2 linked regions of the Homo sapiens genome follow. The protein of the gene in region 2 purifies or fractionates together with the protein of the main gene of each other region. This does not show direct contact. Each region holds a gene or a part of one and is shown on either strand. Other genes may lie near its edges.

What was found.
Region 1: the proteins of TACR1 (region 2) and PKP4 purify together in Homo sapiens (affinity purification with mass spectrometry; 2 studies listed by BioGRID and IntAct, with this or other methods). This does not show direct contact.

What each region holds. Positions count from the first base shown.
Region 1 is NC_000002.12:158,463,298-158,466,951, reverse strand, and holds part of PKP4 (plakophilin-4), read right to left. Parts: intron 1-3,654. UniProt on the Homo sapiens protein: Plays a role as a regulator of Rho activity during cytokinesis. May play a role in junctional plaques.
Region 2 is NC_000002.12:75,192,954-75,196,607, reverse strand, and holds part of TACR1 (substance-P receptor), read left to right. Parts: intron 1-3,654. UniProt on the Homo sapiens protein: This is a receptor for the tachykinin neuropeptide substance P. It is probably associated with G proteins that activate a phosphatidylinositol-calcium second messenger system.

The DNA.
Region 1 (3,654 bases), about 83 Mb from region 2:
ACTTCTGTCTTAACTCTTCAACTGAGTATACAAAGATATTACTGATTCACAAAAGGTACAGATACAGAAAGTTTGCTCAATATCACACTTTCAAAGCTTAGCTTAGTCTTGGTGCTTGATTGGTGCCTATTAGTAGTATGATAAAGAGCATTATGAAAACTCATCTCACTATGGTTATAATCCAGGCAATTAAGTTTAAAATGAATATGAACCAATCTGTTTAAAATCTTCTAATTAATTTCTTTTTGAAATGGAGTTTCGCTCTGTCACCCAGGCTGGAGTGCAGTGGTGCAATCTCTGCCCACTGCAACCTCTGCCTCACGGGTTCACGTGATTCTCTCACCTCAGCCTCCCAAGTAGCTGGGACTACAGGCGCCCGCCACCACGCCTGGCTAATTTTTTTTTTTTTGTATTTTTAGTAGAGATGGGGTTTCACCATGTTGTCCAGGCTGGTCTTGAACTCCTAATCTCAAGTGATCCACCTGCCTCAGCCTCCCAAAGTGCTGGGATTACAGGTGTGAGCCACTGCACCCAGCCGTTAATTTCTTTACTAAGGAATTTGGTATAATGAATTATTTATCTAGCAAGTTGTATTAGAAAAGCATTTTTTTAAAGTCTAAATAGTTTTTTCCTTTGAAACATGCAGGATAAATGGTATCAGGGTCTCAGACCAGTTTACAAAAGGACAGAGGATAGGTACTAGGCACAAACAGACACGATTATCCAAGAGTAGCAGGTGAAGGTGTTCAAAACTAGAATTCAAACTCATTCATTCACTTAAGGTATGTAGAACCACTGGAGGTCAAGATTTAAGTCCTGTAGAAAGATAAAGTCCCTGCTGTTGAGTAGCTTAGAGCAGGACTATTTTCCCATGGAACTGATATACTATAGTTACACTACAGGACGGGAGATTTATGGATTAATGTTGCTTCTGTGAAAAATTATATTCACAGTTCTAAATAATATTTTGGAAGACTGACACTTGCCGATATACTATCCGAAGATTTCAGACTGACACTTATTTTTCATCTGTTGACAGTCTGAATTAGACCTTTAACATCTGAGTTGTTTATCACAGGTCTCAGACTAATAGTATTAATAGTTCTTGTGAAGTCCAGTTGGATTTTGTGATTCCTTAGTCAGTGCCTTTTTTAAACAGACTTACTGCTTATGTAGTTGTCGACAAAATGACAGTAAGTGAAAAATTCCCATCAGTGCATCATTCTGAGATTCAAAGTAAGATTCAATGAGACCATTTATTCTAGCATACATCACGAGAGATTTTGAAACATTCTGTTTATTCATAACAATGGGAGGGAATATTTTCAACAGCAAGTTTGGGCTTATAAAGGCACACAAATTACATAGAGAATAAAAGAAAAGCACAAAACACAATAAACGAAAATACTGCTGCATGAAAAATAAAAATAAGAATGTAATAAAATGGCAGGTCTTACAGCATAAATTATGGTTTCTCATAAATCATGTATTGTCATTATGATTAATTATTTCACATAGGCTATATGGTAAAGTGTTTCAAGAGATACAGCCAAAATAATCAAGTTCATGATTAAAACTTATTTTGAAATCACTATTTATCTTTGGTGCAGACTTTTCCCAAAGAAAGCTAATGAGAGTGGTTAGTGCATATCTCTAGAATCGGGTAATTTATCATGTAATACACAATTAAGCAAGTAGAAGTATGAGCTACAACCTAGTTATTTTATAGCTCATCCTTAATACTTATGAAACAATGTTACATGCTTATTTATATACCAACATTTCTAGGACAATCTTCTCTACCTCATGTGTCTTATCTTTCCCAACCAGACTGAAAAATGTATCATGGATTCCTTAAAGACCGAGACTCCCATTACTGAATCTAACACAGACAGTAAGTATCCCTGGAGGAAGTCATCTTTTTGGCCATAAGGCCTATCAGTCTGATATGGAGTAGGGGACTAAAAAATGTTGGTTAAAATGAACTAAAATGAATCATTTCAAATAAGTAGTATCGTTTTAAATAAGTATGCAAAATGAAACACAATACTGCACACACAGCAGGACTCCAACAAATATCTAAAGTACTAATTGTCTACAGTCCCCTCACTTGCACCCCTAGTGGTATACAGGAATAAAGTTACCTTTAATTCATCAAACAGTCCCTGTTTCCCACTCAACTCAGGGTACAGGTGTCAGAACACATGATCCATTTCACTGCAAAGTGGTAAATAATGGTTTCTATTTTACATGAGTGTTTACAATTCTCATGAAGGTATGGGAACAACAGCCAGTTCTTCAAGGGTTTATTTTGATCGTGACATTGACAATTCATTTAATACTGCATACAATAGTAGTATAATTAATGCTTCCCTTTGCAAATAATGTGCTTATTGCATTAGCAAAGGGGAAGAGCTAACCTCAATATTTTTAAACAATTGTTTTATAGATAAATACATACTAGAGTTCTATACGGATTTTTTTTCTCCACAAAGGAAGAGAACAGGGTCTAGGAGAAACTTTCATCACTGAATTTTTAAATTACTTTTTATAGAAGAGCACAAATCCAAGTAAAAAATTCTCCTCATGAAATCTGCCACAATTTCTGAACACTGGTAGATTGTCTATATGTAAAAATTAGACTTGAATGAAAAGTCCCTCTATTCTATGAGATATGGATTGACGAGTTCCCTATGAACCTAAAGTATTCATACAAAATGTTTTCAGAGGAGCAACTCTGTCAGTTGTTTAACTTCTCTGAGGACAAATCAAACCATCTGAGCAAGTAAGAAGTGGATCTTTCTCACTGTAACAAGACTAGTCCCTTCTAACCACCATGCTAAATCCCCTTTCTTGTTTCTATCCAACTTCTGAAAAATGTAGTCTCAATCAGAGGTGAAGCCTCCAATGTGCACAGGGGACTGGTTGTAGACAAGTAAGTCCCAGAAGTCAGGGCTGTGACAAACTGCAGATGTGCAGCTCCATAAAGGCTCACTGCTCAGCTCCTGCCCCGAGGGGCCCCAGGGATCCTCACTCCTGGAGCACTTCACCACTACCGCACAAGACACGGAGCCACTGACTCAGCCACAGAGGGGTCACAGGTTTGTCTGGCTGCGACACATATTTTCAGGAGCTGAGAATTTCAAGTATACAACTTCAATTTTCCCTCCTTATCCCAGAGGGTAAATTGTCATAAATCCTTGGGAAGACAGCATATTCTTGCTGAGGAAAAAATGTAATGGCTTGATGTTCTAAGAGTTGCGAAATGTAAGTACTAGAGGGACTCTAGAGAGCATCTAGACCAACTCCCTCATTTTATAGACAAGAAAACTAAAGCCCACGAGAGTTACATGATGTGCTCATGGGACACACACCTGCATAGTGGCAAAGCCAGGACTAGAACTAGAGCCTCTTGATATCTATTTAACCACTGTCTGTTGATTTATATCATGTATATTCCAAACCCCCTTCCTCTTTTCTAGCCTTTCTTGATTTGGGAGTCTCCTGCTGATTTCAAATATCCTTTTTTTTTTTTTTTTCAACTGTGATCACTTTCAGACAGAAAAGCCAGCTTAAAGAGTTAATTTACAAGCTGCATTTGGGCAAATGGTGTTAAATGATGAACACTTTCTAACGCTTTATTCATGTACTGAC
Region 2 (3,654 bases):
GCTCCGTTGTTGTTTTTCTCTAGGTAAACCACCGCAGAGCCCCGACCCTCTGTGATACCTGCTCAGTGAGACCAAAAGGTCTCGGATGCCAGAGCTTTAGGAAATGACAGCGACAGGGAATGTCACCATGTTTCCAACATGCAGATACAGCCCAGGGAGGTTACCAATGGCATTCCTAAGATTAGAGTTCAAGGTAGAATTAGGGATGAGACTTCAGGTCTCTGTCTCCATGTCTGCCAAGTGCTCCTTCTATTTTTTCTTGCTCAGCCTGGTGAGCACACTATAAACTCACCCCCTCAGGCCTTCCAATGAATATATTTCCTGCATGTGTGGTCATCCATTCTCTCCCAAGAATGTATTGGAAAGAAAGGGGGCTTTAAGTCCTCTCCCTGTAAGTTATCTCCCTTTTCTCCAGCATGGAAATGCAGACTTAGAGGAAATATTAAATCAGCTGTTTGTATATTCCTTGAATTTTTAACAGACAACCTTTGAATCAAGTCTTTAAAAATAACAGCAATGTGGCTTTCCTGATTGTAAAATTAAACCTGTTCACTGCAGAAGACTTGGGAAATATGAAGAGCACAAAAATCCAATCCCCCTTACCTAACCGACAAGAAGCAACACCTGCTAACCTTTGAATTTCTCTTTTATGACTATTATACTACATAATTGAGGTTAGATTCTATATAATTTTGTAGCCTATATTTTTCCATTGGTATTAATGAAAGACTTTAATAACACCTTCCTGTGTTATTCAAAAGTTTTCAGAAACATAATCTTAATGGCTTCATACTATTCTATTATGTGAATATGCTATTATTATTTACGTAGTCATTTCTCTACTGTTGTGTATTTAGGTGATTTCTAGATTTTTGCTATTATAATTAATAATCTAAGGAATATTTATATATGATAATTTTGTTTTGCCTTCTTGATTATTTTCTTAAGATAGATCCCAATAAGTAGAATTACTACATCAAATAAAATGAATTTTTAAAAAGCTATATCTTCTCATTTTAAAGGATTTTTAAAGGAATTGTTGAGTCAAACTATCTTGGTAAACTTTGTCAAATTTCCTATTAGAATCAAGATATATGCGGAGAAAAACTTCAGTTGCAGATTGCAGTACTAATTTAAATGTTTCCTGTAGTCTTTCTACAGGAAAGGTGGGGTGGGGTCAGGGAAGGAAAAAAAGGGATGGGGGGAAAGGAAGGGAAGGTAGGAGAAGGAGGGAAGAGGGAAGAAAAGTGGGAGGTGGGAAGGGGATAGGAGAGGAGGGGAGGGAAGAAATATCTCCATTAGAAAGAGTTTTATTTTTTGAAGGCAGCAGTTACCTAGAATTTAAAAATGTTTCAGAGACAAATGTAGCTAAATAAGATCAGGTTTACCTCTATCTAAACTCCAACAAATACCAGGGATTTTAGCTATTGAAACTCTATAATTTCTCTGACTTAGAATTTAAAAATTCTTTACAACTATAAAACTAAAAGGTATGTATGATGTTTCATGAAATTTGAAGATGGGGGACACAGAGAGGTGATGACTCCCCCCTCAACAGCCCCGTTCCCCTAACCCCCATTTTCAGGAGTTGGTGACAATTACTGGTTCTATTATGATGCTCTGGCAAGTACTGTGGAGCAGAACCTAAGAAGGGAGTAGAGGAAGGGAGGCAATCTCCAAGCCCTGCAGGGAGCTGGGGAATGGGCAACAGATAACCTGATTTGAAACCATGCACATAGCAACAGGAGCAACAGCGAGGTCCAGACAAGCACTGGCCTGGTATCACTGTTTCTCTACCTGGTAGGGGCAAGCATAATTTCAGCAAAATGAAAGGTAGCAGTTGCTCACTCAGACTCCAAATAAAATGGTCTCTCTGAGACCAAAAAATATAGTTGCCCAGAGAGAGTAATGGTTGAAGGCAAAAGAGGAATTGAGCTCTCTGAGAGAGCTGATAATGTAAAAGAGGAACCTAGAACAAAAACATGAATAAATCACAAAAACTTTGTCCACTGAACTCGTGTCTACACACTCTGTCCCAGCCATACTCAGCTACCAATTTAAATATCCTGCTTTCCAGGTCTCTATTAGACCTGCACTCTATCCTTGAACTTTACCTTGTTGGTTGAACTGCAATCTCATTGTTTATCTCAGAGCAGTCTTCCCTCACCCCACCTGGAGGGGGAATTAAATTCCAGGATCCTTTGCACTAATTCGGATGGCCCTGGAAACCCATTACCATGCACTGCTGTGATGCTGTGAATGGCCATTCACTAGAAGCTCATTGGCCACAACTGGCCCTGTCTTTTCCAATGTCAGCATTGATGTGGATCAAAATGGAGTTTGTTAATTCTCAGATGGGTCATTTAGATTTCAGGGCCTTTCTTCAAGAGGTCCAATGCCCACCTCCTCTCTGGAGCTGCTCCGTTACACTTGCCACACTCTCTCCCTACTCCTGGGAGCCTGCAGTGTCCTGAATGGTCAAGGGTGTTACTTTTTTAAAAAACTGGAAGAAATCATAGTTTGAATTGGAGGCAAATAAAGAATAATTCTCAAAATAAAAGCACATAGCACAAGCACAAGACACTGTTACTATTATTGTTGCTGAATTAGAGTGAGGATCATGAGACAGAAACACCATCAAACTTAGATAAAGATATTCAGTCTATCAAGTGTTGATGCCATCAAGGTAAGGTGAGGTTTCCTAACTCACAGCCTTGTTTATTCCCTCAAAGGGCTATATATGAAGGCAAATAAGACTGATTTAGAGGTAACTAAAATATAAGGTATTAAGTAAAATGTTTCATATGGGTTGTACAGATATATTCCATAGGAGACAAGAGGAGGGACATCCTGCCCAGCAGTGATGAATGATCAAGGAAGACCTCAAGATAGGGCAACTGAGTTAGGCCTTGAAGATTAGATAAGATTTTTAGAGAAGTTGATTAAAAAAAAAAGAAATGACCTTTCAGGTAGAAGAAGCTGTATGACAGAAGCATGGAAGTCAAATGTTGCAAAGTGCCTCAGGTCAATGACAGACTGATTCAACCGAAGTGAATTCACAGGTGAATCAGGGAATGAATTGAGGAGTTGCCCAGAAAAATATGAGAATACTCTATGTTGAATTTGACATGAAAATATAACGATTAGTTGGAATGCCCGACAAGAAACTTGAGAAGTGAGGCTAGAGAATGACAAGCCAGGGATCAAAGAGACAATATCAGCAGAGAATGGTAAGAGGAAATAAAATTAGATGGCAGTGAAGGGAATGATCTCTTTCCTCATCCATCCGTCCATCAAACCACTATTGAGCACTTACTGTGTGCCATATTCTGAGGCAGTAAGACATTGCCTTTGCCATTGTGTCTCAGTCTTTGGAGATTAACAAGGTCACGAACAGCATATAACCCAATGCAATCAATGCCATGCAGAGGGAGCAGAGTTAGAGCAAAGAACTCCCTTGGGAATATGGGAAAGACTTCCTGGTAAAAGGAGAAGAAGAAGGAGAGGGAGGGCAGTAGGGGAGAGAGGATGGAGGGGAGAGAAAAGAGAAGGAGGAGACAGAATGAAAGAGAATGAAGAGAAAGAAGAGGAGGAAACGACAAAGAGGAAGAGAGGCAGCAAGGCACAGGGAAATGAATGTGGAGTTTTGTGTTT